6 separate regions of the Homo sapiens genome follow, and all the other regions are reported to be linked to region 1. Evidence: microRNA targets listed by miRTarBase, many of them from high-throughput screens and not tested one by one. Region 1 holds a microRNA gene; each other region holds the end of a gene's coding sequence.
Evidence for each region. The annotated mature microRNA hsa-miR-181a-5p reads AACAUUCAACGCUGUCGGUGAGU and lies in region 1 at 2,756-2,778, shown strand. An mRNA with a match to its seed (bases 2 to 7 or 8) in the 3' UTR can be bound and repressed. Matches are read on the target gene's strand: a 7mer-m8 pairs with bases 2 to 8, a 7mer-A1 pairs with bases 2 to 7 and ends in A, and an 8mer does both.

Region 2: miRTarBase lists OTUD1 as a target of hsa-miR-181a-5p. Seed matches in the 3' UTR shown: 7mer-m8 at 1,040-1,046.
Region 3: miRTarBase lists CST5 as a target of hsa-miR-181a-5p. The part of its 3' UTR that is shown has no 7-base or 8-base seed match.
Region 4: miRTarBase lists CHD9 as a target of hsa-miR-181a-5p. Seed matches in the 3' UTR shown: 7mer-m8 at 3,967-3,973.
Region 5: the mRNA of FAM13A is a reported target of hsa-miR-181a-5p. Seed matches in the 3' UTR shown: 7mer-A1 at 2,048-2,054 and 7mer-m8 at 2,170-2,176.
Region 6: miRTarBase lists HERC3 as a target of hsa-miR-181a-5p. Seed matches in the 3' UTR shown: 7mer-m8 at 4,361-4,367.

What each region holds. Positions count from the first base shown.
Region 1 is chr1:198,856,810-198,861,885 of GRCh38, reverse strand. It overlaps MIR181A1 (microRNA 181a-1), which reads left to right and starts at 2,733; the gene lies at 2,733-2,842. All of the region lies in intron 2 of MIR181A1HG (MIR181A1 host gene), which reads left to right. It overlaps MIR181B1 (microRNA 181b-1), which reads left to right and starts at 2,904; the gene lies at 2,904-3,013.
Region 2 is chr10:23,440,006-23,445,081 of GRCh38, forward strand. It overlaps OTUD1 (OTU deubiquitinase 1), which reads left to right. Exons shown (of 1, transcript NM_001145373.3): 1 at 1-2,372. The coding sequence ends at 898. Among named protein-coding and RNA genes, the nearest start is that of OTUD1, 3.5 kb to the left of the region's middle. RefSeq lists a silencer at 1-288.
Region 3 is chr20:23,871,452-23,876,527 of GRCh38, reverse strand. CST5 (cystatin D) reads left to right here. Exons shown (of 3, transcript NM_001900.5): 3 at 257-594. The coding sequence ends at 340. Among named protein-coding and RNA genes, the nearest start is that of CST5, 5.8 kb to the left of the region's middle.
Region 4 is chr16:53,324,214-53,329,289 of GRCh38, reverse strand. It overlaps CHD9 (chromodomain helicase DNA binding protein 9), which reads right to left. Exons shown (of 39, transcript NM_001308319.2): 39 at 1,793-5,076. The coding sequence ends at 4,395. Among named protein-coding and RNA genes, the nearest start is that of RBL2, 110 kb to the left of the region's middle.
Region 5 is chr4:88,724,030-88,729,105 of GRCh38, reverse strand. FAM13A (family with sequence similarity 13 member A) reads left to right here. Exons shown (of 24, transcript NM_014883.4): 24 at 447-3,146. The coding sequence ends at 573. FAM13A-AS1 (FAM13A antisense RNA 1) reads right to left here. Exons shown (of 5, transcript NR_002806.2): 5 at 1-1,271. Among named protein-coding and RNA genes, the nearest start is that of FAM13A-AS1, 17 kb to the right of the region's middle.
Region 6 is chr4:88,706,526-88,711,601 of GRCh38, reverse strand. It overlaps HERC3 (HECT and RLD domain containing E3 ubiquitin protein ligase 3), which reads right to left. Exons shown (of 26, transcript NM_014606.3): 26 at 3,063-4,850. The coding sequence ends at 4,642. It overlaps FAM13A-AS1 (FAM13A antisense RNA 1), which reads right to left and starts at 1,813. Exons shown (of 5, transcript NR_002806.2): 1 at 1,337-1,813.

The DNA of each region.
Region 1 (5,076 bases):
CACACACTTGCCCTCTGGAAGGACTGGCAGAGGCAGTCACTTAAATTAAATACAGATCATCAAACAAGATATATAATCTATTCCTAAAACAGACAACTTCAGCATCCCAAATCCCTATGGCTTTTTACTGAGGCACATTGCACTACTTTTTTATGTTCCTCTGTCAATTCATGTTAGGGTTTGCTTTGTTTAAAAGTGGTATTTCATGTATTTCGTGACCCTCTTGCACAAAGCAAAAAAATTGCTTTGGTTTATTTATGACCTACTAACCTTAAGCAAAACTGAAATACTTAATGTTCCCACAAGCCTAGGGATGAGAAATGAAAGCTACAATAAATTTGGCTTTGATGCAAATTAGATTGGTTTTATCCTACCCACACAGCCCTCCAAAATTAGGAAGAGGGGGATAAGAGAGTATTTATGCATTAATGACCTATTGCTTGTGACTTTTTTTCATTCAAGGAAAACTATGCAAGAATGCATATTGCTACCACCAACTTGGAATTCTGGAATTATGAACAATGTGTTCTAAAAAATTGCCAGAAAATGTGAAATCTCAGTACCATTGCATCTTAATATTTTAAAGATAAATGATTTATAACTAAGGATTAAGTTGTGAAAATAAAGATGGAAAAGATATAGGATTGGAAGGTACATGACAGTAATTGCAAGACCATATAAGTGAGCAGAAAACTAAATTGCACCAACAAGTAGAACGATTTTTCTGTATTGCTCGAAATAATTTAGAATATAGAGCCTAAAGTTTACTATCTTCTCTGACATTAGATTAATTGGAAGCAAGAACACAGAGATCCTATTTTCCATTGTGGAGGATTTAAACTGTTAAGATATGAGGTTTTATCTTTAACAAACTATGACTATGATTAGCCCAAGGAAAGAAAAAATAATTAATCACTTTATTTATCATTGCTATTTTATGTGTAAATAACAAGACATTTAATGTAACTTCTATTGTTTCAAGTGAATCATTATAAGATTTTTAAGAATTTTAATGTTAAATCAATTATAGTTAAGATTTTTATTCTAAGAATGTAACAACTTTAGGATTAAGTTAATTGTATTCTTCCAAAGACTTCTAGGAGAATATTTTGGAAAACAAAAGATAACATAGTTATGCCTTTTAATTATTTGTAACTGACCTAGAGCTTTGCTTACTGGTAGGCCAAATGCATTTTGTGTTAAGGGAAAATACAGAGCATGGAGTCTTTTATCACAACATCCCTATTATACAAACGTTAGCAGATGTAGCAAGAGATGAATAGGCATGATTGAAAACAGTTGTATATTGACCTGACACTAATACCACAATAGGCAGGCAACAGAACAGGAGTGATATGCTTTCAGTCGTAATTGATAATGCAAACAAATGAATCCTCAGTCTCATGATAATATTCTTTCCAGCAGCAACACAGAAATGCCTACTGATAAAGCATTCTTCTAGGGTTTTATTCTGTGGGAGAAATTTGCTTCTTTCAAAAGAATTAAACAATGCAAAATTCAGATACATCACTGTTTCATATTCTGTGCCTATTTGTCACTTTAAAATTTACTTCCAGTTGATCTCTAGTCCCTGTTTCTCTCAAAAAAAATCTGTTGAAGTTTTCATGTAAATAGTTTGTCTAAAAGGTTAAACAATTATTGGCTTTAAAATAATTCTAAGTGACTGAAATGTAAGAATGTGTAAAAATTTGGGATACATATTTCACTAACATTTCGAGAGTAATTGCCTTGACTTGAATAGACCATTATCACCTTCAAAGTAGCATTCCAAATTATTGTGGGTTGTCCCTCCTACAGATAATTACTCTATAACCATATTAGATGCAACTTAAATGTGTGAAATAATGACTTTCTATTCTGGTTTAGATACATCCAAGGTGACTTTTGTTTTAATTGATGGTAGAAAATTATTGAAAATGGCTCTAAAAATAAATTCAGTAGAGTTCATAATAATTTTAAAATAAGCATTAATGATAAAACAGTCTTAGAAAATAAGACTATGAAAAGAATCCCTCACCCATCTACCCATAAAGAGATGTTAGATGTTAGATGTTATTTAAAATAATAGGAAATGAACGGTTTTGTAGCATACATAGATTGTATTTACCTTTCACTGTATTCATGAACTCTTTGTGCCATAAACTAAGAAAAATGTATTGAGCTGGTTTCTTCACTTATAATTTGTTCAGCATTTTCTAAATAAGATTGTTCTTAGGAAGTTATACTAATTTTAAAACCTTATTTTAGAATAAAATATAGTAAATATATAATGTAAATATAAATGATATCATCAATGCCAATTTGAGGAAATCTAAGGTAATTCTGTTTAATTTCTGTATAAGCTATATACATAATGCTTGCTTACTATAAGCGTAACAATATTTAAATTATAAGATATTGTTTGGATTTTATACCACAAAGTACTTTGAATAACAAATTGTCCCTGTCTTTAACAGTGAGATAATTCCATCTCTGGAACTAGCCCAATATCGGCCATGTTTTTGCTTAATGAAACCGATCCTTTTCTCTCATACAATGTGATGTGGAGGTTTGCCAAACTCTTTGTTGGAAGAATCATGCTTCTTATTTGTCTTCTTTTGTAGTCTTTTGAAATGGCATAAAAATGCATAAAATATATGACTAAAGGTACTGTTGTTTCTGTCTCCCATCCCCTTCAGATACTTACAGATACTGTAAAGTGAGTAGAATTCTGAGTTTTGAGGTTGCTTCAGTGAACATTCAACGCTGTCGGTGAGTTTGGAATTAAAATCAAAACCATCGACCGTTGATTGTACCCTATGGCTAACCATCATCTACTCCATGGTGCTCAGAATTCGCTGAAGACAGGAAACCAAAGGTGGACACACCAGGACTTTCTCTTCCCTGTGCAGAGATTATTTTTTAAAAGGTCACAATCAACATTCATTGCTGTCGGTGGGTTGAACTGTGTGGACAAGCTCACTGAACAATGAATGCAACTGTGGCCCCGCTTTTTGCTGTCACAATCAACAGATATTCCATCTTTGAAAGATGTGTTCAAAATAGTACTATTGTTCTTTAAGTTTTCCAATTCGTCAGCATCTTCTGGTTTATTTATTCAATTTATATCATGTGATGAGATTTCAATGAAAAAGACTCTGGTTTAAACAAGAATAATGCTTCTCTATCTTTTGTATGCTATAAACAGAGCATGTTTTAGAAAAGGCAAAACTATTTTGTCCATCAAACGTACAGTATCATCATCTAGGTTAGCTCACCTTCCTACTGTTGTAGTGTGAGTGAAAAAAAGACATAAAGTAGGACCTCAGCACCCATGCCATTGACAATAACACACTTACAAATATGTGTTCTTTACAACTTTTGTTAGATGTTCTGGTCAAAGTGGGATAGAAACACCAGATAATTTTAGCTTTCTGCTTCTCTGGGTGAGGATTTGCTCATATAATTCTGCCTCTTGCTATGTAACATGCTAAATACGAAGAAAATAATATATACATAACTATATAACTATCAGAACACTCATGACAGTCATATAGTAGATTGATTTTCCCAATTCAATTTCCACTTTAAAACTTTACCCACTTTCTATGTGCATGAACTGCGTGGTTAGACTTACAGTCATGGCCCATTAATTGCCTCATGTTTACTCATCTGACTTTGCAAGTAAAAGCCTATGCATATCATGGTTTTTCTTAAGTGGTTTGCCTCTGCATTTTTATATAGGACATCTGTCATTAAATTTGATCACAGCAGTTTTAAGTTTACCATTTGTAATGATAATAATTATATAGCAAAATAAAATGCTTTCTCAAGTGTCTATGTTTGGAGTACCTGGATGGCTTCAATGTTCATTTTTTTTTAATGGTCAAATAAATTATCCTTTCTTTTCCTTGATCTTTTAAATCCCATTTGCCTTTAACTCCCATTACAGAAACCCATTGCTGGGACCCGGCTCTTGACCTCATCATAACCTTAAAATATTTTACCACATTCGATATCTAATATCCCACTCTGTCTATCACTTCTTACCATTCTAGTTTCTCATTCTCTTATCTCCAAGGCAACTGTCCTTTCAATATCAGTGTTGCTGAAAAATAAAATCACATCATCATATGGACACATTAATACACATACTCAGGGGCCTCCAAGTGCCTCAGTCCCTCAACTCTGACCCAGCATTTCTTCTACTCCACTCCCTCATGTTTAGCCTAAATGTTTACCTCTTTCCTCAACTGCTCCTTTCCACGATTCCACTCTCAACAGATGAACTGACTTCTGTTTTTCATTGAGAAGCTTGAGTCCATGTGATTATTCCCTCCACTTCCTTGTTTATAGCCTATGAATGCGTAGGATTCTGCCCTGAGTTGTCTCACGTGAGCCTCCTGCCTTGCTTGGGACATCTCTTCCCCTGTGATATCCCCCTCCTCTCTCACCATCTGGCTCCATTTCACATGTAACAAGGTTCAGTTTTCTCTCTTCTCAAATAGAAAACAAAAGAAATTTGAGAAAAACTTCTCTATACTTGCTTTATCCTCAAGTTACTTACCCCACTTCTTTTCTTCTTTTTAAAAGCTAAGATTTTAGAAATAGTACATAGTAGCCTGCAGCACTGTCTATATTTGTTTACTTCCCATTTCACCTCAACTATATGTAATTTGGCATCTTCTACCATTTCTCTCTCCCACTTGTGCATAACATCATTCTAATGACACTGCTTTTCCCCAAATCACCAGTGAGCTCCATATTGCCAAATACAAATCAAACTTTTCTGCCAGTTGTCCTACTCGAACTCCCCTTGATGCCTGACACAGCTGACCACTTCTTCCTAAACTCCAGTCCCCATTCACTTTTGTGATCCTACTCTCATTTGGATTTCTCTCTTTATTACAGTGATGTCCTATTTATTTATTTATTTTTAAGAAGCTCTTCATCTGCTTGAACTCCCAATGCCAGTATCCTTCTGAGACCCATTCTTAACTTTATGGCTTTTTTTCTCTTCTCTTGTCTCACAATCTTTGAAGGAATCTCAGGCACGTGAATGATGTTTACATCTGC
Region 2 (5,076 bases), not on the chromosome of region 1:
CGCGACACGGGAGGGGCCCGATCGGAACTTCCGACTGAGCGAGCACCGCCAGGCCCTGGCCGCCGCCAAGCACCGAGGCCCCGCGGCGACCCCGGGGAGCCCCGATCCCGGCCCCGGTCCGTGGGGCGAAGAGCACTTGGCGGAGAGGGGCCCCAGGGGCTGGGAGAGGGGCGGCGATCGCTGCGACGCGCCCGGTGGGGACGCGGCGCGGAGGCCCGACCCAGAGGCCGAGGCACCCCCCGCCGGGAGCATCGAGGCCGCCCCGAGTAGTGCGGCGGAGCCGGTGATCGTCTCCAGGTCGGATCCCAGAGACGAGAAGCTGGCCCTATACCTGGCCGAGGTGGAGAAGCAGGACAAGTATCTGCGGCAGAGGAATAAGTACCGATTCCACATCATTCCAGACGGCAACTGCCTCTACCGAGCTGTCAGCAAGACGGTGTATGGGGACCAGAGCCTGCACCGGGAGTTGAGGGAGCAGACGGTGCACTACATCGCCGACCATCTCGACCACTTCAGCCCCCTGATTGAGGGCGACGTGGGGGAGTTTATCATCGCTGCTGCCCAAGACGGGGCATGGGCCGGGTACCCGGAGTTGCTGGCCATGGGGCAGATGCTGAATGTGAATATCCATTTAACTACTGGAGGGAGGCTGGAGAGTCCCACGGTGTCTACCATGATTCATTATTTGGGCCCAGAGGATTCCCTGAGGCCTAGTATTTGGCTCAGTTGGCTCAGTAACGGACACTATGATGCTGTATTTGATCACTCCTATCCTAACCCAGAGTACGACAACTGGTGCAAACAAACTCAAGTGCAAAGGAAACGCGACGAAGAACTTGCCAAATCTATGGCCATATCCTTGTCTAAAATGTATATTGAACAAAATGCATGCTCTTGAAATGTCTCAAAACCTTACACCCTGGGAATAATTGCATATATAACTTGTGTTTGGAGAATCACATGAACTTTAATCAGGGTAATAGCACTTTCAAACTTGCTAGTAGATTTTACTGTAGGTGTAATGCCTTAATCATCTTTTTGAATGTTTTCTCAGAGCTGGAGGTTGCTGGGCACCTAAATGATGTTTCATGATAGCTTTGGGTGATTTTACTGCTATTTATAATTTGCTGTATAAAGTGAGCATTACTTAATTTGCAAGCTGATTTCTCACAGTGTAAATTTGTTCATTCCTGGTAGTCTATTTTCTATAAAAATGTATTTTTGCACAACATTTTTAAAAACTGGTGTACCTTCATCTATGACGTGTTCCATTTTGACAAACAGCTTTCAGGCGTAAATCCAGAGAAGTGCTTTATATGAAATGTATTATTTTGAACAGAGTTTGTGATTTGGTAGTTATTTTATGTTGTTGAAATTTGAATTTCACAATTCTTAGATAATTATTTCAAATGGATATTGATGCATTCTTGTTACCAGATGTTTGGCCCATTCCATTTTGATGAAACAGAGCTGTTGTTTTGGAAGTCATTATTTTTCTAGAAATGGCGAATCTTTTAAAGAAAATTACTTAATGGAAGGTTGTGGGAAGGTGTTTTTTTGTGTTTTTTTTTTGGTTTTTGTTTTGTTTTTCCTCTTTTAAGGGATAGTAGCAGGTCTTACTTGAATGAAAGTCTGATATTTGCTGATGGCAGAATGATTATTCTGTACCCTGGTTGATGTGTAGAGTAGATTGTCTGGTGCTCTCAGTTGTTTTTATTTACATTTGTCACGTTGTTGTAAGAGAATGTTAACATGGTATAAAACTCTGTGACAAGATAAGCCTCCTGCTTTATATAACTTCTTGAATCCAGCTAAGAGATTTATAAACTAATGGCATAAATGTCTGGAGCCAACCTTGGCAGTTATAGCAGGAGAACACTGTCTTAATATTTCTTTACATTCTTTCAAAAGGCAAAATAGGATTGCCCTGTATTGATGTAGAAATGTCTGTAAACAGAGCTTGTATGGTTTGCTGGGTCAAACAATGTTTCCAACTTAAAATCAATCTCATTGCCACTTTAACTACTTTTAGTCATATTTATTAAGTAATGCAGTTTGTACTTTTTTTATTTTGTAACATTTTGTGATTTTTTTGTACAAAACTGTATTTGTACAATAGAGCAATTCCCAGCTGATGGAATGAATGAATAAAATGCAAAATTATACTTTTACAATGCCTTTTTGGATAGAGTGGTTTTTAAATTGTGATGTTTGTAGGAAACTTTCTTGCATGTATGCATGTACACAATTTTTTTTTTCCATAAAGATGCCACAGCAATAGAGAGGTTTCCTAAATTATCACATGAAGAGGATAGGCTAATCATGAGTAATTTCAAAGGATAAGTCTGAATAAAATATAATTTAAAAGTGGAGTAATCCAAGAAATTGCTCTCATTATTTCTAATTATAATTTCTGTCTACAGTTATAGCTGTACCTATTGGCTAATGAAAAAGGAAGTGCAAGTTTTGTGTCAGCCAGCAGAATGTCTAATTAAATGTCATACTTTTGTATTCCACTCACTCTCAGTATAGAGTTTAACGTTTTAGAGAGTAACCAAAGAGATGCCCTAATTTTTGTCTAGTCTGGCCTCTTGAGACCACGGGAATCTGTTTTAAGATGTTGAAAAGTGCATGCTATAGTTTGAATATATGTGTCCCACCACCCCAAATTCATGTGTTCGTCCCCATTATGGTGGTATTAAGAGGTTGGGCTTTTGGGGAAGTGATTTAAGGCATGAGCGCTCTGTCTTCATGAATGAATTAGTTGCCTTTTATAAAAAGGTCTGGAAGCAACTAGCTTAGGCCCATTTTGCTGTTCTGTTGTTCTGCCACAGGAGGACACCTAGATGGTGTCATCTGTGAGGAAGGGGCCTCCGCCTGATGTGGAACCTGCGAGCACCTTGATCTTGGGCTTCCCAGCCAACAGACTGTGAGAAATACAAATTTCTGTTCTTTATAAATTATAGGTATTTTGTTGCAGTAGCACAAATGGACTAAGTTGGTGCACCTGTGTGCATAATGTTGGGGTATGTGTAATGCATAAGAAAAGCAGCTATTTTGGATATTTTACTTTTCAGTTATTTAGACATCACAGTCATAGACACAACTGAACTTGATTGAGTTCATTGGTTAACCACATTCTTGGAAGGATGCCGTTGAATATCAAGGAAAGAATTTGTCAACGGTTTAAATGTTTACTAATCACAGATCTCTGGATTTTTGTGTAGGTAAGTTTTGCTTCATGGCTTCAGTAAGTAATTTGGGAAGAAAGAAATTCTATTATTTGAATTACCTGGCTACCCCTTTTCTCCACTTTATTTAGAGCTGTATAACATTTGGAGATGCTTAAAATTTTATACAAGTATGAGTAGAACACACAAGAATTCCTAAAAAGCCTTCTGTAAGCCTATTACTGTTTTAGGTAGCTTACTCTGTGTTCTGTTTCATTTTCAAATTAGGATTCCAAGTCCTGATTTCTTTTCTTTTTTCTTACGTTTTTATTGAGACAGGGTCTCCCTCTGTCACCTAGGCTAGAGTGCAATGGCACAGTCATGGCTCACTGCAGCCTCAACCTCAGAGCTCAAGTGATTCTCCCGAATACCTCAGCCTCCTAAGTAACTGGGGCTACAACGGTCGTCCAGCATCACACCCAGCTAATTTTTAAAAAAATTTTTTAGTAGAGATGTAGTCTCACTATGTTGCCTAGGCTGGTCTTAAATTCCTGAGCTTAAGTGATCCTCCTGCCTCAGCCTCCCAAGGTGGTGGGATTACAGGCATAAGTCACCCTGCCCAGTCCTGTTTTTAAATTTAATTTTAACATTTTGTTTATTATTTTTGAGACAGGGTGTTGTCGTGTCCCCCAGGCTGGAGTGCAGTGGCACAATCATGGCTTACTGCAGCCTCTACCTCCTGGGCTCAAGTTAGCCTCTCACCTTGGCTGCTGAGTAGCTGGGACTATAAGCATGTACCACCATGCTCAGCTAATTTTTTATTATTCATAGAGGTCGGTGGGGCGGGGGTTCGCCCTGTGTTGCCCAGGCTGGTCTTGAACTCCTGGCCTCAGGCAATCCTCCCACCTCAGCCTCCCAAAGTGCTGGGATTACAGGTGTGAATCACACACTCAGCCTTGAAAAAGAAAATCTGGAGATAATTTCATTACTTTGTTCAAGTTTATCTTATGTGCTTTTCCTAAAAAAAAAGTTATACAATTTTTTTCCAAGTTTTGCATTTTGAGAATCATTAGCACTTTACCATGACATTTAGTGCTCATGTGGAAGAAAGGCATTAGGGAAGAAAAATAGATTGTAATCCTTTGGACGTTTGATAATTTGATATGTAGGTAAATGTACTGGATAAATTCAAGTATGTAGCATGTTCACATTAAATAGTTATTTGTTACATCCTAAGTTCAGATGTCATTTTTTTGTACATCCCTAGAATGTCTATCTCAAAGAGGCACTGAGAAACTAGATGACATTTAATTCAGTTTGATTTCCCAAATTTACTAAGCTCAATAGGCACATTCCCTGTTGAATCCCTGGGTTCAAACCCAAGTACCTAGCAGAGCGAGTGCTCAGTAAATTGCTTTTTTCTTTTTTTTTTTTTAGACAGAGTCTTGCTTTGTCGCCCAACCTGGAGTGCAATTGTGTGGTCTTGGCTCAGTGCAACCTCCACCTCCCGGGTTCAAGCAGTTCTCCTGCCTCAGCCTCCCGAGTAGCTGGGATTACAGGTGCCTGCCACCATGCCCAAGTAATTTTTTGTATTTTTATTTATTATTTATTTATTTATTTATTTGAGATGGAGTCTCGCTCTCACCCAGGCTGGAGTGCAGTGGCATGATCTTGGCTCACTGCAACCTCCGCCTCCCGAGTTCAAGTGATTCTCCTGCCTCAGCCTCCTGAATAGCTGAGACTACACGTGCGTGCCACCACGCCCAGCTAATTTTTTTTTTGTATTTTTAGTACAGATGGGGTTTCACCATGTCAGTCAGGATGGTCTCGATACCCTGACCTCGTGATCCGCCTGCCTTGGCCTCCCAAAGTGCTGGGATTACAGACGTGAGCCACTGTGACTGGC
Region 3 (5,076 bases), not on the chromosome of region 1:
CTGCGCTGGGACAGGAATCCTGCAGGCTGGGGTGAAGGCCCAATGTCACCTGGTGACTTGGAGCCTTGGGAGGGGCAATGGAACAGTCACTGCCCAGTTGGGCTCAGTGCCCTGGAACTCGGCAGGGGTAGGTTGGGGTCAGGGGGCAGTGTCTCATCTCCAACCATTTTCACCCCCATTCTGATGTCCCATTCCTGGGCATCTTTGGCTTTAACTGTAACCCACAGTCATTTTCTCCATCTCTTTCTTTTCACAGGAAGAGTTCTGCTCTTTCCAGATCAATGAAGTTCCCTGGGAGGATAAAATTTCCATTCTGAACTACAAGTGCCGGAAAGTCTAGGGGTCTGTGCAAGGCCTGTCACACTGACCACCTCCTACTCCCACCCCCTGTAGTGCTCCCACCCCTGGACTGGTGGCCCCCACCCTGGGGGAGGTCTCCTCATGCGCCTGCACCAGGAGACAGACACAGAAGGTGGCAGGAGGCCTTTGTTGCTCAGCAGGAGGCTCTGCCCTTGCTCCTTCCTTCTTGCTTCTCATAGCCCCAGTGTGCAGTGCACACTCTCCCACCTCCTGCAATTAAACAGTAGCATTGCCTCCCTCTGAGTTCTTGGCTGTTTGGGGATGTACACACAGGCAGGGTTTCTGCAGTTCCTTTATGAAGCCTCCTTGTTCTGCTGGCCCCAGAAGTTGGGCTGCTGGTTTGGTCTGAGCTCCTGGTCAGACCAGGAGGAGGGGGCTGGCTGTGTCCACAGGCAGGGGCCAGGCCTCAGTGGAGCTCGCCAGGCCGTGGATTCCATCTGTGCTTGCAGAGTTGAGCAGACTCCAGGGACTGAGCTGCTCTCATCAAATCCCCTAGACACTAAATAAATAGCGATCGATGTCTGCTTCTTTCCACAAGAGACTTTAGGCCCTTACATGGAAACAAGTCCAAAAGTGTGTATGTGTATGTGTAACTGATTGGGAGAAATGCCAGCCAGACCAAAGATGGGCAAGATCTCACAGAGAAAACAGTGCCTGCTGTCATCTATCCTGGGAAGGTGTGCCCCAGGGTGGGAGGTTTTGTCAATTCACACCCACCGGCCCATTCTCTGGACTTGAAGTTTTAAAAAGTCCTCATGTCAAACTTTATATTAGGGTTAGAGAAGTTAAAACACAAATGGGACTGGCATGAAGTGGACTGTTTTTTTCCAAGGATGATGTTCCAATTAATAAAAAAAACTTAGTGTCATCATGATTCATAGAATAGTAGATATTTGTGCCTCAAGCAGGAGGCTACACTCCTAAGTCACATGGCCCCAAGCCCACACGGTCCTTCTCTTTGCTATTTTAGTTCAAAGAGAAGGGGGTGCAGCCCTCAGGACAGGTGCCTCTGGCCCAAGGCTCTGAAATGTCTTCCTCACTCAGAGCTGCATTGACCAAGGGTGGCTGCCATGAACACTGAGAGGGAAATGACAAAGAGGAAGCTGCTGAAACAGCCCTGAGGCCAGCACCCACCGTGCTGCACCTAGGAAGCCAGGAGGAGAATGGTCTGGCAGGGAGAGTGAGCAGCATCTGCTTCCATTTCCTCTCCACCCCCATGGGATTTAACTGAGTCTGTGATGTGGGAAGTGTAGCAGCGCCCAGGCAGCCATGAGCGGGGGAGTCAAATCTGGGCCTCATCCTCTCAGTGGAGGGTGCACTTAGTGATTCAGGCTTCTACTGGGAGAGAGCGGCTGAGGGCAGAGCAGCAGGTGCACAGATGTTGTGGTTGGGGGCAAAGTCTTTCTTGCACGGAAGTGCTCATAATTTTCCATGTGGATGAAGGGTTTATTGACCAAAGGGACCACCATCCAGGCACACAATGAACAGCTGATTTTTTGAAAAACAGTCCCTTTCTGACACAATTCTATCTTCCTTGGGGAAGATGGTGTGACGTCGGGGTTCTGCACAGGACTCCCCCGACTTTTCCCTGTGTGTCTGCTCCCTTGGAACAGAGCAGGATGCGGGGAAGCTGAGAGTGAACAGGTCCATCTTCTGGGCACTGAGCTGTGTCCTTGGAAGAAGCTAAAGAAGGTTCCTGATCAGGTCATGTTAAGTGTCTTCTAAGAGTTCCTTTAGAAAAAATCATGCACCAGATCAGAGGTAAAAGATGGAAACTGCAGAGGTTGGAAACCCCTCACCCAGCATAGAGAAATCACTCTGGAAGGAGGGATGAGTGCATCGGAGGCCTGGGAAGCATGAGACGGCACAGTCTTTCCTTGGGCAGGTGGACTCTCTTCATGATCACAGGCAGACCAGGTGCTGCAGGGCCTGAGGCTCATACAATATGGGGGCTTTATGTATGAAAAATAGAGCAATATTAGCAATACAAAAGAAAGCACAAAAGTTAATGTTTATTTGGGAAAAGAAAATAAATTATGGCAAAATACTCACTTTTTAAAACACTGAGATATACTGCAAACAGCCACAAACTCCAGAAAATAACAGACACCCACAAAATCCAGAAAATAATCAGCCACCAAGTCAGTACTGTAGCCAACACACTCAGTATTGGGTTGTTGCAATAAGGGAATAAAGTCACACAAGGATCCTCACATGATTCAACAAACAAAGGAAAAAAGGTTATCACAGGATTGGAGGAAGGGATTTTGAAGGTGTATTGATGCACTCAGAGCATGGCAGGCTTCTGTGTAAAGGAGCCAGGGTCAGGTCTGGGCTGCAAATTGTACTCAGCTCCTCCTATCTCCTCAGCTCCTCCTATCTCCTCAGAACCCATAAGGTTCAGGCAAATGTGGAACGTTCTGTCCAGAAACCCCTTCTCTGTAGCTCTGTGCTTCTGTGTAAAGGTGGACCTAGATCCTCCAGGCAGTGGGATGTTCTTCTTACTCATAAGCAAAGTTTCTGACAGCCCTGACGCTAGAGAACAAGGTCTTCCATTGAGTCAGAAAGCAGTTGTCAGCCAAGGAAGAAGCTGCTTGACATTTCAAAGCTGCAGCTTGAGAGAAACATTGTTTCCCGTTCATGATGCCACTGGCTTTGACCACATCAGTCCATCTATCCACCCTGCAGATGAAAGGGCAGATTTGCCCTCCCTTAATCCACATGATCTTTACTGTCTCATATAATGTTTTTGTTTAATTAACTAGTTGACACAACTCTGTAATATTTTCTGCCTATGTTTCCATATTCAGCTAATGAATCACTATTTGCCTCATCATAAGACATTGAATTTGTACCAGAACTTTTATAAATATAGCAGAAAGATAAACCAGTCTTTCCACTAACTGTTTGATGATCTGTGAACTTAATGGTACATAACATCCTTTTTCTGCTTCAAAACTCATATTGGTAATATCCTGCAACCTTTCCTGATTGTTGACAAATTCGTAAAAGCCTCTTGCAGTTTCCTCTCATTTGTGAACTCTAAGATTTTAGTGCTTTCTAAATTTTCTAGACATAAGATTGATGATCTTAAAGACTCTTTGTATTAACAATGCTCACTAACACAGCATTTTTAAACTGTCACTGTTGTGTAGTGAGCTTCAAAATTGTGCAAATGTATCATGATGTGCTATATTGATTAGCTCATTGAATGTGCAGGAGTTTGTCCTGGAAAAAGTATCTCTTCAAGTCATCTCACCTGTTGGTCACAGTTTTACATCTGTGTTGCCTGCAGCTGGGAGCCAACAGAATAATCGGGGAGGGACGTCAGGCCCGCCCCTCCTGTCTGTGCCACTCACACACACATGGGCAGACTCCAGTATTCTTGCATAGTGCATGGGCAAAGGAGGACGTGAGGGAGGAGACAAATCCACCAGCCACAAAAGTAGAAGGAGACTTGAAGAAGAGGTGAGGGAAGGAGAAACCATGCAGAAGAAACTGCAGAGGCCTTGGGACCTGCTGAGAAGCTTTCAGCCACATGTAAACTAAGTCCCTAATTAAAAATGTCTTGAATGCAAAGGGAATGTTCTACTCTCATGATAAGAAGCCCCTGGGTGAGGCAGGCTTCAGGAACAGAACTCCCAGCATATGCTCTGCTTCCTTGGGATTCTCTCAGCCTTACCTTCCTGTTCTTGAAGCTTCAGCCTCAAGCTGGTAGCAAGGTGGTTGCAACAGCTCCAGACATCACATCATCAACACCAACATCCAGAGGCAGAAAGAGCCCTGGGAAGAGCCTCTGTTCCACACCTCCTTCCTGAATGTGAGGAGGCTCCTCCTATGCACCCCCTAGCTCACCACCCCTGCAGTCTCATTGGCTAGGGCTGGGTCATATGCCCACCCCCTACACCAATCCCTGTTAGGAATTCACATCATCCATTGTGTCACCAGCACTCAGTGAAACCTGTGGATAGGATGGCAGCATCCTGGTAATAGCACAAACTTCAGCATGATCAAAATGATGACATGACTGCAGAGGGAATAAATAAATTATGCATGCACATGATGAAACCATCGTTAAGAAGAATTAGCAATATATGTGTTAAAATGAAAAAAAATTTTAATACACTTTGAATATATTATTTTATAGAAAACAAGATCTATATGGTATGTTAATACAAAGCTCTTTCCAAAAACAAAAATAAACACATGTGTGTATGTGTGTATATAGACATATACACAGACATATACACATATGTATACACAGAAACACATCTGAGGGAAAGAGAGAGAAAGGGAGAGAGGATGAGAAGGGAGAAGAAAAAGAAAGAAGAGAAGAATTTTGCATTTTTCTGTTTCATTTGAATGTTATTACAATGTCACGTTGTTCTAATTATTCTAATTATTTTAAATGTCATCCATGGGTGTTTGGGTGATGATATGGGTTGTTTTTCATTGTACCCTCCCTATGTCTGCATTTTAAAAACTAACAAATGCTATGGCTGAATGTCTATTGGTGTGGTTGATATGCCTGCATATGCTTAATAGCACATTAATTATGAGTGAATCAGGAGTTGATATTCAGCATCAGGGGTTTCCCCTGCCCCCTGAGTTGCAACAGTCATTTAGAATTCAATACATTTTTTCCTTGTTTTTCATGACACTGAGTATTTCTGAATAGATCCTCTCTCAGCTACACTGTGAGCTCCTGGGGAAAAG
Region 4 (5,076 bases), not on the chromosome of region 1:
ATTAAGGGCAGTGCACCAAGTTTTTTTTCTTCTTTTTCAAAGCCTACAGCAGGTAGAAATTATGTACCATAAAACACTGAGTTAATATGAAAAGCTATCAGTTTCCTAGGGCTGCCATGACAAATTACCACAAACTAGGTGACTTAAAACAATGGAAATTTATTCTCTTACAGTTCAGGTTAGAAACCCCAAATCAAGGTGTTGGCAAGGTTGGTTCTTTCCGGAAGCTATGAAGGAGAATGCTTGTTACTTCTCTCCTAGCTTCTGGTGGTTGCTGGCAATCCTTGGTGTTCCCTAGTTGTAGGAACATCCCTCCGGTCTCCTTTATCACAAAACAGCCTTCCCAGTGTTTCTGAGTATCTTCTGCTCTTCTTCTAAGGACACTAGTCATTGGATTTAGGGCCCACCCTAATCCGGCATGACTACAACTAATTACATTTGCCAAGACCCGATTTCCAAAATAAGGCCACATTCTGAGGTTTTAGGTTGACATCAGTTTCTGAATGACACTACTCAACCCACTACATGTAAATAACATAGATATACAAAAGATTGAATATATTACTGACAGTGTTTATCTCTGGGTAGTTTTAGTTTATGAATGATTTAAATATTTTTTTGCTTTTCTGAATTTTAAAATAAATAGCTTATATAGAGATTAAGTTCTAAGTTTATTGTATAAAGTGAATATTAGGTGTAGTCAAAAATCATTTCTGGCTGGGTGTGGTGGCTCACACCTGTAATCCCAGCACTTTGGGAGGCCGAGATGGGTAGACTGCTTGAGCCCAGGAGTTTGAGATCAGCCTGGGCAACACGGCAAAACCCCATCTCTACAAAAAATACAAAAATTAGCTCGTTGTGGTGATGCATGCTGTAGTCTCAGCTACTCAGGAGGCTGAGGAGGGAGGATTGCTTGAGCCCAACAGGTCAAGGATGCAGTGGGCTGTGATCGCACCACTGCACTCCACCCTAGGGGAGGCAGAGCAAGACCTTGTCTTTATAAAAAAAAAAAAAATCACTCTTTTCTCTCACAGAGCTCACAAATTACAGAATACATCATTTTATACCTCATATCTCTTCTCAAAAATGTCCAACATAGGCAATTCTTCCTCCAACACTGGAACAGACTACTGTTCCTCTGGGTGAGTACTAGATGAAGCAGTTGGTTTGTGTTTATATGTTATGTTGTACAAAAATGAAAAAAAGGTTTTCTAAACATGAAAGTGTAGTTGAATGTGTTCAAGTTAAATGAGTATGAGACTCCACTGTTTTAGTTGTGTAATTAGAGGAAAAACTATTTTCTTCAATGTTTACGAAGAACACTACCCATGGCAATGAGTTAGGAAACACTCTTAAGACTAAGGGAAAAAAATAATTATTGATTTCCAAAATGGACTTCTTAAAGAGGTGAGGAATATCTCTGAGTATTTCTGAGTTTTTTAAAAGTCCAAAAACTTAAGAAAATAATACTTAATGTTCAGCATGAAGTTGAGATTGGGCTGCAAAATTGGGGTTTAACAATTTGAATGCCCAAGAAGCAGCTTTTGCTTTTTTTGCAGTCACCAATATCCACAATGAACAATATTAATAAAATTAAATCAAAATGAAAAATTGACAGCATTTAAGATACTGTGGATAAAATTATAGCCAATTTTTGTTTTAAAAATTCTTCCACGGTATATTTTCCTTTTAAAGATTTACAACTATGGTGTCTCTCATAACTGGAATAAGATAAATTCTATATAAAATTCAATTTTAAAAAGTATTCTCATGTACAGAGGCTGACATCATGGGTAGTCAAAGAATATGTTTAATAAAAAATAATTAAACTTCCATTTGCTCTATAGAACATCATAGAAAGTAATTTAATAAATTACAAATGACTTTTTAAGACGTTTGCTCAACTACAGAAAGCAAATTCAGACTACACAAAACACAACTGGTAAATATTGCAAATGTCCAAAAGAAAGATTGGACTAAGACTTGAATCATAAAACCTGAAACAAGGGCTATAAATACAAGGCAATAACAGCTATAATTCTTTTAGTAACTACCAACACATACTTGGATATTCTTTCAACTGCAACTTTAGTATTATGTAATTCTACTGATTTTTTTTTCCTTATAACCCTTAACTTTACACAACCATATTTGCATGTGTTTTCTTAGCTGATAGCTGGACAACTTTTCCCCAATGAATATTAAATAGAAGTGTCTTGAAACCTAAGAGAATGTTTAAAGTTATGTTAGACTTAATGCTTTGAAAACTGTAATTGCCTTATTATATAGAAAGAGAATCACTAGGATGTTAACCAAATTTATTTGACCATAATTAGGAAAATACTTTCTCTCATAAATTTGATATAAATTAGATTTTAGTGACAAGATCTACAGATTTTTTTTCCTTTTTTTTTTTTTTAATTGGCGAAAGGAAGGAATAAAGATCATGTGGGTAGAATTAGAGGGAGGAAGGGAAATGTGGTTGGTGTTGAAATACTCCACCGGTAAACTAAGATAACTGTGTTTGAAACTTTGGCTATCTCATAGGTGTATTCTAGTTAAACAAAAGTGCAATACTGCAAAGGGAAGATACTAAATATGTAATATATCATTTTCATGATGAAGAATTACTACCCACTTCTCCTGGATGGGCATTATAGAGACTATTGCTAAGACATTGCATAAAGGACTATCAATTCAAAGTACTATTTTGGGAAAATACAAAATCAATACAATCCCAATGGAACTTATATAATTTTGTAAATACATATAACACTGTCTCTCTAATAAGGGGTTATTTTACATACAGAAACATAATTTACTGGTAAAGGTCTTGGAAAACCTGATACAATTGACTAACTCATGACAAAGCAACAGTTTTATCAAAACATACTGAAAGTATTTTTTCTGTAGGAGAGAACTGGGACACTTTTTCCCCCTAAATTTATGCCCTTGCAGACTTTACTACTAACTTATTTGAGTACCAGAAAAATGCTAACATATATCTCTCCTTAGAATGTCAATATTTTTATGTCCAATTCAGTACTAATTGTTTTAAATATATATAAAGGTGAACCTGGACCTCTACCTTGTCAGAATAATAGCAGCTTTAGCAGGAGAAATTGTATCACAAATCAAATATCAGACAAATTTTACATGGTAAAGGAGTCTATGAAATTGAACAGAAGCCTCAGGCTTCACTTTTGTGGTTTACAGGTATAACTTGTACATCTTTTTGAGATTATTCAAAGTGCATTTTCAAAACGGGCAACTCAGTATATTTAATATAAACTGATAACCCAACACTGATTCTGGGCAACATTTAGTCTGCTTACACCTAGAAACTCAAAATGAATTTAGACTATCTGCATATTACTTTACCACTATTATCTGTTAATTCTGGAATATTTCCATGACATAAAACACAAATAGAAATCTACACAAAGAAAGCAAACAAACAATTTCTTTTACATGAAGTATGCTGTGTTGAAAGTTCTTTTCAGTGGCATTTCATGAGTTTGCCTTTTCTGAACCCTGGAAACAGACATTACTCATCTGAGACATGATTATTTCTAATAGGAGGCCAAACTTTGAAAAGTTAAAACTAAGTATGTCTATAGGGTGCCAAAGTCACATGACACATGATTATTTTATGACTTAATTTTACTGATATCTGAATTAAGCTCAGCAAAAAGCAAGTCATATTTCTTGCCAGATTGACATGATATATAGGATGTGTTTAAAAAACCCCTGAAAACAAGTATAGAATTAGAAACGAATGTAAACTTCCTAAACTAACTCAGCTGAGGTAACAGGTAGCCAGTTAAATTGGCTGATTGGGAAACTTATTTCTTCTTTAAAACATACTTGTACCTGAATTGGAAACATCAGCAGTGCATCACAACACTAGAGCATTTTCATGTAATTAAAGCAATGGATGGTGATGTAGATTCTACAGCTTTCATGACATTCATTAGCTGCCCAAATTATTGCTGAGTTTTGATCTGTAAATTATAGGTGTCAAGGAGGCTGTAAAACTATATTCAAATTAAATCAGTAATATGCATAAAGTATTCTGTGTTCACTGCAAATATATTAAATATACAACTCTTATTGAGCATAATTTTCATAAAATTAACCCCCAACAAAATTATAATGCCTTTTGTTGTAATTTTACACCTTTATGTATTTGATAGTACATACGAGTTCAGAAACTTATGAATCTTAAGAAATATTACATGCAAAAAGTCTCTGAAAGCAGTTTGCACTTCTAAACAAATAACTGAAATGTTCGGTCAGTAAGTTATTGATGCACTCAACACTGGGGTATTTACAATTAATTATTAAAGAAAAAATCCAAAATCAGTTCATATTTTAAGTGCAGAGTCTGGGAATCAGTCTTCATTACTAGAATCTGAATCCTCAGATGACGACGATGTACTATCAGATCCAGATGAAGCATCAGCTTTCTCTGAACCCTCATCTGTGCTGTTTTCATTGAGAGGACTTGGTTCAGTTCCTCCTTTGTCTTCCTGATCTTTAATTCTGGAATCTTCTTCTTTTACTTCTACAGACTTAGACGAGCCTAAGTCACTGTTTTTGTTTTGTACATCAAAAGTATTGGACTGGGACAAAGTTGGAATATGAAGATTAAGGCCTGGAGTGAGAAGCATCCCTGGATAAAGTATATTAGATAGTAATAGTGGGTTAAGAGCTAATGGGTTGGCAGCTGCAGCTGTATTTAATGCAGCAGTAGAGGATGTGGAAGGAGAACTTGACACAGAGTTTTCTCCACCATTCTCTGAACTTTGGCTCTCTGTCCTTTCTGTTTTTCCTTCTGACTCCTTAGAGTCACTTCCCTTTTTGTCTTCTGTCCCAGATTCCGTAGGCTTTGTCAGGAGTCCTCCCATGCCCAACAGATTTGGTAATCCAGCCATTCCTGACAGCAGCATGGGGAACATAGCAGCCATGTTTTTAGCTTCTCCTCCAGAAGGAAGGCCGGTAGGCATTCCCATCAACCCAGCAGTTACTTGCAGTGACTGCAAGTTTTGTAGGTTTTGTTGTAAGGCCTGAAGA
Region 5 (5,076 bases), not on the chromosome of region 1:
AGGAGTATTAACTATCTGTTTTTGGAAAAAAAAAAAAAAAAAAAAACTAAGTTGTGGACCAGTTGCTAATTAAAAATTTAAAATTTCACGAGATGAAATATATAAGAATGAGAAAACATTAAGTATGAATAAAAGATTTTGGTGTATGAGAGCTCAATGTGAATTCATACTTAGCAGAGAGAATTTCTGCATTTCTTAGCCTTCTTATCATACAGGATGCCAGATTAACTATATAAAAACTCAGTTGCATGTTGCCTTCTGGGTGAAACATTTTCATTACTTGTCTAAATCCAGCCCCAGTCTTGAGACCAAGGGCCACTCGGCAACACTGATTCTACAAGTTGATAAACTGCAAAGTTTCTAAACAATGATAATTTGCCCGATGAATAGTATCTAGCAAAGACAGAAAATGATCCTCAGACCCCTTTTTCCTTTATTTGCATTAGAAATGTCCAGAAGGAAGACCGCACTCCTATGGCTGAAGAATACAGTGAATATAAGCACATAAAGGCGAAACTGAGGCTCCTGGAGGTGCTCATCAGCAAGAGAGACACTGATTCCAAGTCCATGTGAGGGGCATGGCCAAGCACAGGGGGCTGGCAGCTGCGGTGAGAGTTTACTGTCCCCAGAGAAAGTGCAGCTCTGGAAGGCAGCCTTGGGGCTGGCCCTGCAAAGCATGCAGCCCTTCTGCCTCTAGACCATTTGGCATCGGCTCCTGTTTCCATTGCCTGCCTTAGAAACTGGCTGGAAGAAGACAATGTGACCTGACTTAGGCATTTTGTAATTGGAAAGTCAAGACTGCAGTATGTGCACATGCGCACGCGCATGCACGCACACACACACACAGTAGTGGAGCTTTCCTAACACTAGCAGAGATTAATCACTACATTAGACAACACTCATCTACAGAGAATATACACTGTTCTTCCCTGGATAACTGAGAAACAAGAGACCATTCTCTGTCTAACTGTGATAAAAACAAGCTCAGGACTTTATTCTATAGAGCAAACTTGCTGTGGAGGGCCATGCTCTCCTTGGACCCAGTTAACTGCAAACGTGCATTGGAGCCCTATTTGCTGCCGCTGCCATTCTAGTGACCTTTCCACAGAGCTGCGCCTTCCTCACGTGTGTGAAAGGTTTTCCCCTTCAGCCCTCAGGTAGATGGAAGCTGCATCTGCCCACGATGGCAGTGCAGTCATCATCTTCAGGATGTTTCTTCAGGACTTCCTCAGCTGACAAGGAATTTTGGTCCCTGCCTAGGACCGGGTCATCTGCAGAGGACAGAGAGATGGTAAGCAGCTGTATGAATGCTGATTTTAAAACCAGGTCATGGGAGAAGAGCCTGGAGATTCTTTCCTGAACACTGACTGCACTTACCAGTCTGATTTTATCGTCAAACACCAAGCCAGGCTAGCATGCTCATGGCAATCTGTTTGGGGCTGTTTTGTTGTGGCACTAGCCAAACATAAAGGGGCTTAAGTCAGCCTGCATACAGAGGATCGGGGAGAGAAGGGGCCTGTGTTCTCAGCCTCCTGAGTACTTACCAGAGTTTAATTTTTTTAAAAAAAATCTGCACTAAAATCCCCAAACTGACAGGTAAATGTAGCCCTCAGAGCTCAGCCCAAGGCAGAATCTAAATCACACTATTTTCGAGATCATGTATAAAAAGAAAAAAAAGAAGTCATGCTGTGTGGCCAATTATAATTTTTTTCAAAGACTTTGTCACAAAACTGTCTATATTAGACATTTTGGAGGGACCAGGAAATGTAAGACACCAAATCCTCCATCTCTTCAGTGTGCCTGATGTCACCTCATGATTTGCTGTTACTTTTTTAACTCCTGCGCCAAGGACAGTGGGTTCTGTGTCCACCTTTGTGCTTTGCGAGGCCGAGCCCAGGCATCTGCTCGCCTGCCACGGCTGACCAGAGAAGGTGCTTCAGGAGCTCTGCCTTAGACGACGTGTTACAGTATGAACACACAGCAGAGGCACCCTCGTATGTTTTGAAAGTTGCCTTCTGAAAGGGCACAGTTTTAAGGAAAAGAAAAAGAATGTAAAACTATACTGACCCGTTTTCAGTTTTAAAGGGTCGTGAGAAACTGGCTGGTCCAATGGGATTTACAGCAACATTTTCCATTGCTGAAGTGAGGTAGCAGCTCTCTTCTGTCAGCTGAATGTTAAGGATGGGGAAAAAGAATGCCTTTAAGTTTGCTCTTAATCGTATGGAAGCTTGAGCTATGTGTTGGAAGTGCCCTGGTTTTAATCCATACACAAAGACGGTACATAATCCTACAGGTTTAAATGTACATAAAAATATAGTTTGGAATTCTTTGCTCTACTGTTTACATTGCAGATTGCTATAATTTCAAGGAGTGAGATTATAAATAAAATGATGCACTTTAGGATGTTTCCTATTTTTGAAATCTGAACATGAATCATTCACATGACCAAAAATTGTGTTTTTTTAAAAATACATGTCTAGTCTGTCCTTTAATAGCTCTCTTAAATAAGCTATGATATTAATCAGATCATTACCAGTTAGCTTTTAAAGCACATTTGTTTAAGACTATGTTTTTGGAAAAATACGCTACAGAATTTTTTTTTAAGCTACAAATAAATGAGATGCTACTAATTGTTTTGGAATCTGTTGTTTCTGCCAAAGGTAAATTAACTAAAGATTTATTCAGGAATCCCCATTTGAATTTGTATGATTCAATAAAAGAAAACACCAAGTAAGTTATATAAAATAAATTGTGTATGAGATGTTGTGTTTTCCTTTGTAATTTCCACTAACTAACTAACTAACTTATATTCTTCATGGAATGGAGCCCAGAAGAAATGAGAGGAAGCCCTTTTCACACTAGATCTTATTTGAAGAAATGTTTGTTAGTCAGTCAGTCAGTGGTTTCTGGCTCTGCCGAGGGAGATGTGTTCCCCAGCAACCATTTCTGCAGCCCAGAATCTCAAGGCACTAGAGGCGGTGTCTTAATTAATTGGCTTCACAAAGACAAAATGCTCTGGACTGGGATTTTTCCTTTGCTGTGTTGGGAATATGTGTTTATTAATTAGCACATGCCAACAAAATAAATGTCAAGAGTTATTTCATAAGTGTAAGTAAACTTAAGAATTAAAGAGTGCAGACTTATAATTTTCATAAGTACTTTTATTGTGTTCAGTCTGGCGTAAACGTTGAAATAGATGTTTATATTAAGTATGATATCATTATGTTTCATCTTTGAATCATTTAGTTCAGATTCACTTTCTAAGACTTGTAGGTGCAAGATTTAGGATAAGGGACAGCTTAGAAGTTTTTCAAGATGGTAGAAGTTTGTCCTGTGCTGCTTTAAAAAAAATAATAAAAATTTAAAAAGCTAGCACAATTTTGGTGACCTCCCAAATGAGGGAAAATTTCCGTGAAAGACCAAATTTCAAACTGGAGTACTAAAAATTATTTTTTTAATTACCAGCTAGGATGTTGTCAGCTGTTAAGATTTCTTCCATTTGCCTACCAGTTCAAAGTCAAAAGAAGATTATTACTCATTGCAGGGATCAGTGATGTCTCTGTAACATCAGTGTAATTTTTGCTTTGTCTCATAATTCATTGCTTGGGTGGCAGCGGAATAGCCTCTTGCAGGGTGTGCCTGCTCCCAGGTGTGACATTTCCAGCCAAGGACAAATGCCTCAAAGCTGTGTTGTGTCATAAATGCCGCACTAAGGTATCCCAAGACCAGCAGTCTTGGAACCCCGAGGGCTGAGCATTTGTAAATGTGGTTGAGCTTAGAATTCCTTATAAGGTGAATATTTAGGTTTGTTATCATCATAAAGGGATGGCCATGGTGCTAATCAAGCTGGTTCTGCCCAGGGGTTGCCTAGTTCTCAAGAGACGACAGAATTGGGCCCTGTGTCCAGAACTAATCACAGAGTTTAACTTTTTGGATAATTTTTGGTTTTAGAGCTTTTTAATCTGATAAACATGCCATTTTCTTAAGAGTAACACCTTATGCTTTTGGTGGTATATTTATTTATAGTTGAACACCATAAACTGCTAACAGCTTTGTGAAAGCTAGCTGTAGTCTAAATTCTGTTTTGCTTTCAAGAGGGGTCTTCCTGACACACTGCTTGCTAGCTTATTTTCCCCTAGTCAGGGAGAGGTGGTTTCTGCACCAAGATCAATGCCTCTGTGATATTTTTTCAGTATCCACTTAGTTAAATCAATGAGGAGGGACAAACTATACTACAGTCTTGAAGCACTGTTTCCTCTGAAGCTCTTGTGTTTGACAGAACTCAGAAAGTGCTTTCCTTTCCTTCATTAATTTCCTTTTACTGTTTTTTTTCCACTTGACACTCACTCAAAATATATACTAAAGAGTAGACTGGCTAAACATATTTTCAAATTTTTATATATTCAAATTGTGCACACTGGCTCTACTTTAAGTGGTGACCAACACAGCACACACCAAACAGAGTCACGTATAAATGCTGGGCACTGCACAGTGGCACTGGCCACTTTCCCAAGCAGAGATCACGTGTGTGCCTCAAAACACAGGTTTGGCAAATCCTCCAACTGAAAACACCTATACAGTCATGAAAATCTCCACAAATAATAGTTTTTGTAAAAAATATGGGCTCCTAACAATATTTACATGACATGTAAGCAGAAGGCATTTGAAATTACCATTGTCCTTTTTAAAAATGTAAACTGAACAAAAAACATTTTATACATGACTATTTTGTATAAATGTAAAATATTTTAAACTATGAAAGTGCTAGAATTTTTGACAGTGGCATCAGGATCAGGGTCTGACCTTTCCCTTCTTTAAGTAATCCTGTGACTCCCTGGAGCCCCTCAGAAGCCTCCTGAGGATTAAGTTTTGTTGTTCTAGCTCCAGGCAGGGCACTGGAAGGTGATGCGAGCTGAGCATACACTTCAGGCATGTCCGTTTTGCAGCTAGAAAAATGGGCTTGTGCTCTCATGGCTCAGTTGCCTTTAAAAAATTCATAGAAAGCACTGGAGAAGTGCAGAAATGAGGGAATTAAAGCAAATTTTTAAAAATTAAGTACATCTCCCAAGCCAATGA
Region 6 (5,076 bases), not on the chromosome of region 1:
ACGTACAACTATGTACCAATAAAAAAGTATTCAAAAATAAAAAGCTTATTAATAAAAGAAAAAAAAAAATCTTCTGAAAAAAAGAATTCTACAGAGAAGGATCCCCTAAAGGGTATGAAGTCCATCCCTCTCTCAGTGTTTTACAAAGGGGCCTGTCTTAGTCCAGTCAAGCCACTATAACAAAATGCCAAACACTAGGTAATTTACAACAGAAAATCATTTTTCACAGTTCTGGAGGCTGGGAAATCCAAGATCAAAGCACTGGTGGTGTCTGGCGAGGGCCTACTTTCTCACAGATTGTGCCTTCTTGCTGTGTCCTCACATGGTAGGGAAGGCAAGGCACCTCTCTGGGTTCTCTTTTATAAGGGAACTAATACCACTCATGAGGGTTCTGCCCTTATGATATAATCACCTCCCAAAGACCTCACCTCCTAATACCATCATCTTGGGGGCTAGGTTTCAACACATAAATTTTAAGAGGGAAACAAACATTCAGACCATAGCAGTGCCCACTGGCATCTTGGGCAGGATAAAGAGGAATTGTTCTATGCAATGCAAGGCATTAAGCATACCTGGTTCCTGGCTACTAACTACCAACAGAGACCTCCAGCTTCACTTGAGACCCACTGCAAATGACATGAGAACTGCACTGATCACTACTGAATTGCACACTGGCAGCAAAACAAAATTCAGTGTGATGTCTTTGCAGATACGTGGAACTCAGTGCGATGTCTTTGCAGATACGTGGAACTCGGTGCGATGTCTTTGCAGATATGTGGTCAAAGAAGTTACCTGCCACATTACAACATTCCTTTTTATTTGGCTACTGAGCAGCCTTAATCCAATTTGTTGCCCATCTCTAGCAGCTGGGCATAACACAGATTAATGGTCAAGTCCAGGTCCCACTATTTTGTGATAATGAGCAACTATTTTCTCTAATTAATTCCTTCATGTGAAAAACTGGGATAATGGTAATTCTAAGTACTGAGAGCTTATTATGTGCTAAGCGCTATTCTATATGCTTTCCATTAATTCATTTAATCCTCACAACAACTCCATGAGGTAGGCACTATTTCTGTTCTCATTTTGAAGAGGAAGAAAATGAGACATAGGTTAAGAAACCTGCCCAAGGTCAAACAGCTAGTAAATAGCAGAGCCAGGAGGACCCTGGTAATGGCAATTAAACTAGTTAGTGCATAGCAAATGTTGGTGCAGGATCTCATATGGGTCTGGTACACTGCACACAATTAATACAGGTTAGTTATTATTAGGTCGAAACCTTAGTATTAATATCTACTTCTGTGGGTTAATCTTAGTTAAAACTTGATTTTCTTACCTCTGAGGCAAATAAGCCCAAACAGTTGTTCTCTCTGATTCAACATCAAATTATGACTCAAGTTCCTCCTAACACTTCAAGAAGGTTTTTCACTCTGTTACTGTAATTTTTGCAAGTCTGGTCTCATAAGGATTGGTCAGTTGTTTTCTGTAAAGGGCTAGATAATATGTTAGGCATTGTAGGCCATCCAGTCTCTGTCATGTATCCTTCCAGTTTTAAAGTTTTCAACCCTTTTAAAATGTAAAAACCATTTTAGCCCATGGGCCATAGTTTGCCAACCCCTGCTCTCTGGGATTATTAATAAGAGTACCATATAAAACATCAAGAGACTTTCACATGGAGTAGATGGAACTATCAGAATTTGCTAATTGCCTCATTACACCGTCATTGATCCCCACCCACCACAATAAAGTTGCCAGATAATTTCATTAAAGTGGTAAATGACTAAAACAATGAAGAAGCATCTGAAAGTTTTCAGGGGAGGGAAGGTTGGTAGGTGGGTAGGCAAATCCAGAAATGCCTATGCAGAAGATTTAAGTCTTCTAAAGCATTGGTAATGAAGGGGAAAAGGAAACTATCTTAGAAAAATCATAGTGTTTTAGAAGCAGCATAAGATATCATTCATGCAACAAATCTTTAGAAATATGTATTGGGTATCTCTATGTTCAGGCACTCTCTCAGTAATGGAATTATAAAATTTTAGAGCTCAAAGTAACCTTAGAAATCATCTGATCCAATCTCATTTCATGGATGAGAATTCTGAGGCCTCAAAGTTAGTTAAAATAATTTGGCAATTTCTGTGCAAAATTAAATGTAGTGGGGTTTGTTTTTAACTCCTCAAATGTAGCACTTATGTAGATTATTAAATGTTTGTTGAATGGAGCTTATTAATGGAAAGCTCCTATTCTCTTTACCACCTTTAAACCACCTTTTTAATCTGGCAAAACAATACATTTTACTTGCTTTACCAATTTACTTAAAATCCTTTCTTTTTTTTTTTTTTTTGCTGTGTCTCACAAACTTTTGGTGTGCTTAAATGGCCTAACAATCACCAATCACTAAATGAACCAGTCTCTGATCCACCTTTAGTGCCTCCTTCTCCCTGCAGGCTCCTACCACCTCCACTCACTCCCCCTACCTCTCCTCAGATACTCTTCTCTAGTTCTGCTGCTGCCACTGTCACTGCTGTCTCAGCTCCTGTCTTTCTGCTTCAGTCCTTCCCACCTCAATACCTCCAGATTTAGACCATCCACATTTTCCTTCTTAAGACCCGGCTCAGGTCTTATCACCCTCAAGTTCTGAACATTGAAACAAATCCTACTTGGCTACTACTAAAGTTCCAGTGTTAGGCTAGTTCCTCAGCCCCAAATCTACCTTCTTTCTCCCAAGTCTTACTTACCATTATTTACTATTATTTGCCTATTTCCTCTGATGTTCCCTTCAAACTGTTCTTGGCTCTTGCCTAAATATGCCCCAATGTTTGAGCCTTTGCTAAAGCATCCCTCTCCATGAGAAACACCTTTTCGTCCATCCCAACCTTCAAAAACTTCATTCTTCCTTAATGCCATCTGCTCCTTGCCCCTGCTTTCTTCTCCATTTCTGCAGCACTTGGCTCTACTTTCTTATGCAGGAATCAAATCTGACCTTCTATTAGATTATCTGAGTATACGACCTAATGCTTCTACTAAAAGCAAGCTATCCATTCTGCAAGTACAATAAGAAATAGTTTTAAGTTAAAACACCAAATTTATTGCATAATATTGAACTATATGCACACACATAGAAAATAAACATTTCATATAACTGTATATATATTTTTAATCCTGTATTTATAAAGACTGAAAAACTACCAATTTAGCAATTGGAATAAGTTTTAAAAACAAAAAGAAAAAGCAAAAATCTACAATCCTTCATCAAGATTTGATGCTTTATCACAGTTCATAAATACTTCATTTTATATAAATAAGTCTTTTCTCTAGTTACTAGGAATTTAAAATTAGACTTACATGGATTCTTTAATCATGTAGAATTTTCTTACTCCATGATGAGGAAGGTTGAGCATGTCATTATTTTTAAAATACATATATTTGATTTAAACACAATCCCCCCTAAAATCCCACTGTAAACAAACATTTCGAATGTGATAAAGTTTCATAATAAAGAACGTCCTTAAATCTTAGCAATTAGGGAAGAGGAAAAAAAATCTGAGTAAAAATTTTGCAATTTAAATAAAAATTGAAAAAAAGGCTGCATGCATCCACTAGAAGGAGAGGAGAGGAAGGGAGCACTGAGTCAAGTAACAGAGAATGGGATAAAATAAAGAAGAAACGAAAGGAAAATCAGGGAGGACACAGGGTACGAAAAGGAGAAAATAAGGGAAGGGAGGAAGGAGAAAATGGTAGAGGACATAAGGTGATAGAAAAAGGGAAAGTAAATTTATTATTTCTACTTTTCTTGGACAATATAGAGACTCAAAATAGTTAATGCAACTTGCTCCAAAAGCGAGAGTGCAAGAGGTGGTGGGTCTATCAATTAACCTTATTGTCAAAGGGACAAGGATGAGCAAGAAAAAATTAGGCTCAGCTGCAACGAATGCTAAGCTGCTCTGCACATCTTTTAAAAGGTCTAGGAAATAGGCACAGCCATGGGAAAGTTGCTATTCCCTCAAGAACTTTTTAAAAGCAAGATATGTTTATATAGGCTCCCATAAATTCTTAGGAGTTCTGCCAAAATAATGGACCCAGACTCAGCTTTTTGGAATTGGGAGTTTCTGAAGCAGTCCTTTCCTCCTTTGGGTTAAAGGAGGGCTGCAACAAGCCAGAGGCATTTCCAAGTGTACAGAGGAAGGTGATGTTCTCGCATGCGCAGATAAAAAAGGACAGGTCAGTCTAAATCATTCTTATAGAGGAATGAGAAGTTAAGAGAAGGACAAGGAAGCACTGTGAGAAAACATCAGGGCTGAGAGAGACATTTGGGAAATTAAAGTTTAAAAATCCACTGCCATTTCATCCAGCAGAGTGCAACACATTCACAAGTGCAAGGAATACTGGGTAGTTTGGTTTAAAACAAAAACAAAAACACCTCCCATACAAGGGCCAATTTTTCACCCCATCCCCAACCTCTAATTTTTCAAAAAGGTTGTTTACTGCTATACAATCCCAGAAACACATCAACCAGGCTCAGTATTTAAAAGTCCCAACCCACTTAGACAATAAAAAAATAGAAATCACTCCCCATGATTTTCTGTATAGGCCTCAATGTGGACACTGAGGAACGAAGGGAAATACTGGACAAGCTGAGAAGCCTCAGGCCAAACTAAACCCTTCATAGTTGTCAAGGGCCTGGGTCAGCCGGGCACTCAGAATCTCTTTGCTGCTGTACTTGGGGAGGTCAAGAAGGTTGTAGCAAGTGTGGGCCACCGGCAAGTACTCCTCCCCGCTGGCTGTGGACTGGATGACAATCTGCAGACTGGCCATGCCGTAGATGGGAATCCGATCGCTGCCTGTCAGGAACACTGGGGAGAACGAGAAATGGCATTAGCAGCTAAGCAAACGGAAAATGGATCTCAGAGATCCTTCTGGCAACAGGAGAGGAAGGCATGACACCCTGTGGCTTGCATGAGAAGTACAATTACATTTATGTGCCAATATGCATCCTGTGGAATGAAAATTAGATGCCGTTAAGAAAAAAAAAAGGCCTCAATCAAATGTACACCCTCACAAATGTTAGATTTCACAAAA